Linked DNA regions of Homo sapiens: region 2 is reported to be linked to region 1. The links are microRNA targets in miRTarBase. Many come from high-throughput screens and were not tested one by one. Region 1 holds a microRNA gene; the other region holds the end of a gene's coding sequence.

Region 1 (3,132 bases):
CCCCATCTATAAGGGAGTTAAGGAAGCTCACTGGCTTGCACGCTGAGAATGGGAGAGAGGAGAGCACAACAGGCTCCATCTCCTACCCTTTCAGTAGGTGGGGTTCTCTGCATGCAGGGCCATGTCTCTGAGTGTGTCTGGTGTACAAGGATTGGGGACATTTGAGAATTTCACTTGAGCAGAACCTGCACATGCTTGTGCATGCAGACTGGGTAACAAGGAACATATAGATCTACTTCATTCTTTTGAACAGTGGCCTATTCATCCACAACATTTATGTATAGTGTGTTTATGAGTCCCTACCAGAATGTAGGGTAGCAACCTGTCCATTTTGATCCCTGCTATATCCTTGGTGATGAACATAATACCTGCTGTCTAATAGACACTTGAGTATCTGTGGAAGGAAGAGGAGGGAGAGTTGATGTGCAAAAGCTCTGTCCTTTTAAGTGTAGACAAGGCTTCTTCCCTTGGAATTCTTGAAAAGGGACAGTGAGTCAAGGCAGTACTGGCACACAGGCTGAAAGAATGTGAGTGATGCACCAGGTCAGAGGGACCACTCTGTGAGGACATGTCTCTGTGGATGTAACCAAGTCAGGCCCTTTCTCTTGCACACAGCGTATTTATGTGTGATTGTACTGAGGTTTAGTAGATTCTCCAACATGTATCTGTACCCCACCCACCCTGTACCCCACCCACCCTCAGGACATGCAGATATAATGAATGAGAAGGAGTCCATTCTCCTCCCTGAACTGTACACTCCATGAAGGTAGGGAACCAGATATGGCTCATTCTCTTGTGGGCCAACTGCCCAGGACAGCACCTGCAATAGAGTAGGTAGGTACTCAACAAATAGTCATAGAAAGGATGGAAGGAGGAGGTAGAAGTGCTCTGTCCTATGCGAAGATGTCACTCCCCCTTGCAGAATCCTTGCCTGGGTGCACTGCATTCAGAAAGCACTCTCACCCAGGTAGCAAGGATTAGAGAGGGGGAACCAGGACAGGAGATTCCAGTACCTGTACACCTCACATGTGCATCTAACAAGAAGGCTTGCTGTTCTTGCCTAGTGCATTAACCTTGCATTGAACTAAAGTAGAGAGAAGTTGCTTCGACAAGTATCAGGCTGGGTGCAGTGGCTCACACCTATAATCCCAACACTTTGGGAGGCTAAGGCTGGTGGACTGCTTGAGCCTAGGAGTTTGAGACCAGCTTGGGCAACATAGTGAGACCCCATCTCTACAAAAAATAAACACAAATTAGCCAGGCATGGTGGCACAAGCCTGTGGTCCCAGCTATTTGAGAGGCTGAGGTGGGAGGATCGCTTGAGCCCAGGTGGTTGAGGCTGCAGTGAACTGTGATGGTGCCAGTGCACTCCAGCCTGAGCAACAGAGCAATACTCCATCAAAAAAGAAAGAAAAGAAAAGAGAGAAGAAAAGAAAGGAAAGGAAAGGAAGGAAAGAAAGAAAAGAAAGAGAAAGAAAAAGAAAAGAAGGAAGGAAGGAAAGAAGGAAAAAACAAGAAACAAGTATCAATGTGACAGCAGGAATGAGAAGACTCACACTTATGGGTGGGTTAAGGTGGGAAGAGGGTAGATAAGAAGTTCCTATGTGGCCCACTCACCCTCAGTATATGCAGGGGCAATGAGTGGTGACAAAGTCCATTCTCCTCTCAGGCTATAATATCCAGGAAGGCAGGGGCGAAGTCTGCCTTGTTCATTTCTCTGTGTCCAATGCCCATCATGGTGCCCAATACATATTATTTGTGGAAGGAAAGAATGAATGAGGGTCAGAGAGCAGGCAGGCAAGCAGCAAGCAGCTGAGAGGTGACATACAGATCTTCTGTTCTCCACGCAGAGGGGGCTCACCCTCTCAGAATCCTTGCCCGGGTGCATTGCATTCAGAAAGCACTCTCACCCAGGGACAAAGGATTAGAGAGGAAGAGCAGAGCAGAAGACTCAGGCACCTGCACCCTGCATGTATATCTCCATATATATTTGACTTTCATGGTCCCATTCCTGCAAAGTATCTCTGTGTGCATTTGCTAAGACAGATGCCTCTCCTCAGGGATAGCATATGTATTCATCCCCCTGCACAAGGCCACATGGACATGCCCTCTCAGACAAAACCTCAGACTAGAATGAAAGATATGAGTGGCATCTTTTTCAGATCACACTTGAGGGTCTGCAGGTGCTGGATGTATTTGGGGCCTAGCAAGGAGGTTGGGACAAACTGTATGTGGGCACACATGTACATGCACATGTTGGAAGATGGTACAGAAAATTGGGATACTTCATTCTCTTCTGTTTCTCTGGTAAACTATAAGCTCACTGAGAGCAAAGACTGGCTGTGCAAGTCTCATCACCCAATGTGTGTTTCCCCATTACAGTATCTGACACATAGTAAGCTGGGAGTAAACAGAAAGCTCATGCTCTCAAAGAGGTGTAAGCTTGTCCAGGGCAATGATGAAGTTCATTCTCCCACAGGTGCCCTCTACAGAGCCCAGGGACCTTAGCTGTCTTATTTACCGTTGTATCTCCACCACCCAGTGCAGGATCTGGCACCGCATAGCAAACACAAACATGTGAAAGAAGGGGACAGGTTGTTGGTCCTTCTACATGTAGACAAGGCTCAGCCTCTTTGAATCCTTGAATAGGTGTGTTGCACTGAAATAGCACTCACACCTAGGTTCCAAGGATTCAAGAGGGGGAGCAGACAAGAAGGCTCTGACACCTGCCCTTTTTGTGTGTTTGTATGTGTGCATGTGTAGCTATAACCAAGTCTCACTCTCATGTATATACAGTGTCATTTACTAGGGACTTTACAGAAAGGCAGAGAATCTTTTCTCCTGCAGAGTTCCATGTGAGATCAGAGAAGATTCATGCTTTTGTGTATGTTTGTGGGTGACAGTGGTAATGAGAAGTCCACTCTGTGGCCCACCCACTCTCAGGGCATGTAGGTGTAATGGATGATGAGGAATTCCATTCTTCTTCCTCAACTGTAGCTCCATGAGGGTAGGGACCAAGCATGTCTTGTTAGCAACTGTATGCTCATTACTCAACTTAGTATCATATACAGAAAAGGTGGTCAATAAATACTTGTGGAATGGATGATAGGAGGACAGAAAGACGCTCTGTCC
Region 2 (3,132 bases), not on the chromosome of region 1:
TAGCCATGCTACTGTTTCTGAGTACCCAGAAGGCTATTTGTAGCCTTCGTGAACACTTGCTTTCTAAGCCTTTTGAAATCACGAGAGATAGCATAGCAAATAGGAACCTGTTGTATATTCCATTTGGCTATATTTTGTTTGTTTGTTCATGTTGTCAGCTCACTGCTTAGAATCTAAGGAGACAAGACCATAATAAAGGACAGTGTAGAAGACCTGAAGTTTTAAGCTCCAAATCTCTTAGCTACCAAAATAAATAAATACTACAGAGCTGTTTGTGAGCAAGAGAAAACATCTAGACAGAGTAAGGCTAAAGTCCTTTTTCCTTCACCCCTACCCTCTCCTCTTTTGCATCTAGAGATTTGGAAAATTGCTAGAACCATGAATTATTAGGTATGATGTTTTATTTTATTAGGTTGGAATGAAATACAGAAACCTAATCCTGAAACCTGGGGGATCTCTGGACGGCATGGACATGCTCCACAATTTCTTGAAACGTGAGCCAAACCAAAAAGCGTTCCTAATGAGTAGAGGCCTGCATGCTCCGTGAACTGGGGATCTTTGGTAGCCGTCCATGTCTGGAGGACAAGTCGACATCACCATGTGTTACTGGCCTGGAAACTGAAGGGAGTTTTGCAAGTGAAAATTTAGATTTCTATTGACATCCTTTTGTTTTCTAATTTTAAAAATTATAAAGATGTAAATGGAATTATAAATACTGTGACCTAAGAAAAGACCCACTAGAAAGTAATTGTACTATAAAATTTCATAAAACTGGATTTGATTTCTTTTTATGAAAGTTTCATATGAATGTAACTTGATTTTTTACTATTATAATCTAGATAATATGATATAAGAGGGCTAAGAATTTTTAAATTGAATCATATATATGATATAATTTGATCCTTCTTGTATCTTGAAGTTTTGTACTTGGGATTTCTGGACTGATAAATGAATCATCACATTCTTCTGGTAAATATTTTCTTGGAGCTCTGTGTCAACTTTGATCCTTTGTCTCCCAGGAAGGTGTGACCTCTCCTTTGCCTGCATACCTCAAGGCCAGGGGAATATGCCTCAGTGATGCATTTATCTTTGTATATCAGGCCGCATGATTCCCAACTTTCTGCCACACTTAAATTACGTTCCTCCATTTCAGTTTTGTCTTTTCTGTCTAAAGTTCAGTCAAAGAGTATCAAAAAATTATGTTTCAGCTAGACTGGTGTAATGTATAAGTTTTTGTATCTTGTATTAGAGGATTTCGTAGCTTTTATTAGAGGCTCATTTCCACCTCAGCATACAAGATCGTTAGTCTTTTGGCATGTGTGCCAATTAGAATACTAAAGCAAGTCCAAGCACATTTTTCTCTTCTCACGTTTCTAATAAGTGTTAGGGACTTTGCCTCTTTTACTTACCACGTCCCCAAAAGTGTCAGGTAGACATGTCACAAATGGCTCTGTAGAGAGCCATGGGAAGAGAGAGGAGGTGGATGTGGAACATAAAGGGTTCAGAAACTCCAGAAGAGGAGTGGGTTTTGGATAGAAGCATTTGAGGACAGCTGCTCCAAAGCCTTATGTGTATGATGAAACTTAACCACGGGGAAGAGACTCTTCAGTAGCCTGTTCTGTCTGGTGATTTTTATTTTAAGTGAACCTTTGGATCTATCTTTAACTCTCTTTATTGTGAGTCTAAATTCCAATTCTGCAGCAGATCAGTAAACTCACAGTATTTTTCCTGTGGAAATCTATTCAATAAGGAAACCAAGACAGGATAATAAAATTTAAAAAAAAAACAACTTTGAATTCCCCTGCCTAGGTCTTCCAGTTGTTTTCCAGCGCATACCTCAGGTATGACTTTGCTAGCCGGGGACAAAATTAGCACCTTCCGATTCTCTAGTCCAAATGAACTTTGTGCTAAATAAAAAATTATTATACTACATAATAAAGTTACAGATAGCAGGAAATGCAAGAGCTAGGAGATTCCTAGATTATATCTGCCAAGCAAATACCTTAAACATCCACCTGAAATCCTACTACCCCCTCTTCTGAGATAATTTGCCCAGCCCTTCTCTTCCCACACACTCACTCAATGTCACCCCCTTCTAATCCCCAAAACTGTTTTTGTGGTCTTTGTAGCCTATAGTAGTTTTCTCACATCTTTCCCCCTAGACTTTTCTGTTTTTCAGTTTCAGACAAAAAAACTCTTCAGCTTTTTCCAGTGTGTCTCCTTAACAGTAACTTTACCACTTGAAATCTTATTTCATAGAAAAACTAAATTGGTGTGGAAAGGCTGCACACAATAAAGTTATATTATTATCCATGAAAATGAACTCATATTTCTTTCATACTTTAACGTTAAAACCGAAATGCATGAGAGCAAAAGCACCATGGTGTTCTTTCTATTTAGGGCCTACCTCTAATATTTAAAATCTACCAAAGAGCAGTCACAAAATTAAAACTCAGCCCGGGCGCAGTGGCTCATGCCTGTAATCCCAGCACTTTGGGAGGCCAAGGCAGGAGGATCACCTGAGGTCAGAGTTCAAGACCAGCATGGTCAACATGGTGAAACCCTGTCTCTACAAAAATACAAAAAGCTGGGCATGATGTTGGGTTCCTGTAGTCCCAGCTACTTAGGAGGCTGAGGCAGGAGAATAGCTTGAACCCGGGAGGTGGAGGTTGCAGTGAGCTGAGATCATGCCATTGCACTCCAGCCTGGACGACAGAGTGAGATTCAGTCTCAAAAAAAATTAATACTCAAAGAATTATCTAGCATAATTTAAAAGAAAGGACTTTTTAAAAATTCTCTAGCATAATTCAAAAGAAAGGACTTAACTTTTTTTTTTTTAGTGTGGTCATCCGTCTAGTTGTTCTTTTTTTCCAGATCAGAGCAGAGAATATCACTGACATGCTTGAAATGGTGGATAACTATGTAAATTGTAATTGGACAAATGTACACTTTAGATTTATGGACTGAGCCACATATAATAAGGTCTCTCCTGGTAATTGATCCAGGGGATTTAGGCCTCTTTCGGGTTTTTTGTTTTTTTTTTAGGCATTGTTATGTTGTGAAGGATAAAATCTTCAACATCTTATGCAAATGGATAGTAGGCATGATCCTAAAGGTTTAGTTTTACGATGC

Evidence for each region. The annotated mature microRNA hsa-miR-500b-3p reads GCACCCAGGCAAGGAUUCUG and lies in region 1 at 920-939, opposite strand. An mRNA with a match to its seed (bases 2 to 7 or 8) in the 3' UTR can be bound and repressed. Matches are read on the target gene's strand: a 7mer-m8 pairs with bases 2 to 8, a 7mer-A1 pairs with bases 2 to 7 and ends in A, and an 8mer does both.
Region 2: miRTarBase lists NLN as a target of hsa-miR-500b-3p. The part of its 3' UTR that is shown has no 7-base or 8-base seed match.

The regions. Positions count from the first base shown.
Region 1 is chrX:50,008,529-50,011,660 of GRCh38, reverse strand. MIR500B (microRNA 500b) reads right to left here and starts at 989; the gene lies at 911-989. The region is part of intron 3 of CLCN5 (chloride voltage-gated channel 5); the gene reads right to left. It overlaps MIR362 (microRNA 362), which reads right to left and starts at 2,697; the gene lies at 2,633-2,697. It overlaps MIR501 (microRNA 501), which reads right to left and starts at 1,939; the gene lies at 1,856-1,939.
Region 2 is chr5:65,822,369-65,825,500 of GRCh38, forward strand. NLN (neurolysin) reads left to right here. Exons shown (of 13, transcript NM_020726.5): 13 at 413-3,132. The coding sequence ends at 547. Among named protein-coding and RNA genes, the nearest start is that of NLN, 100 kb to the left of the region's middle.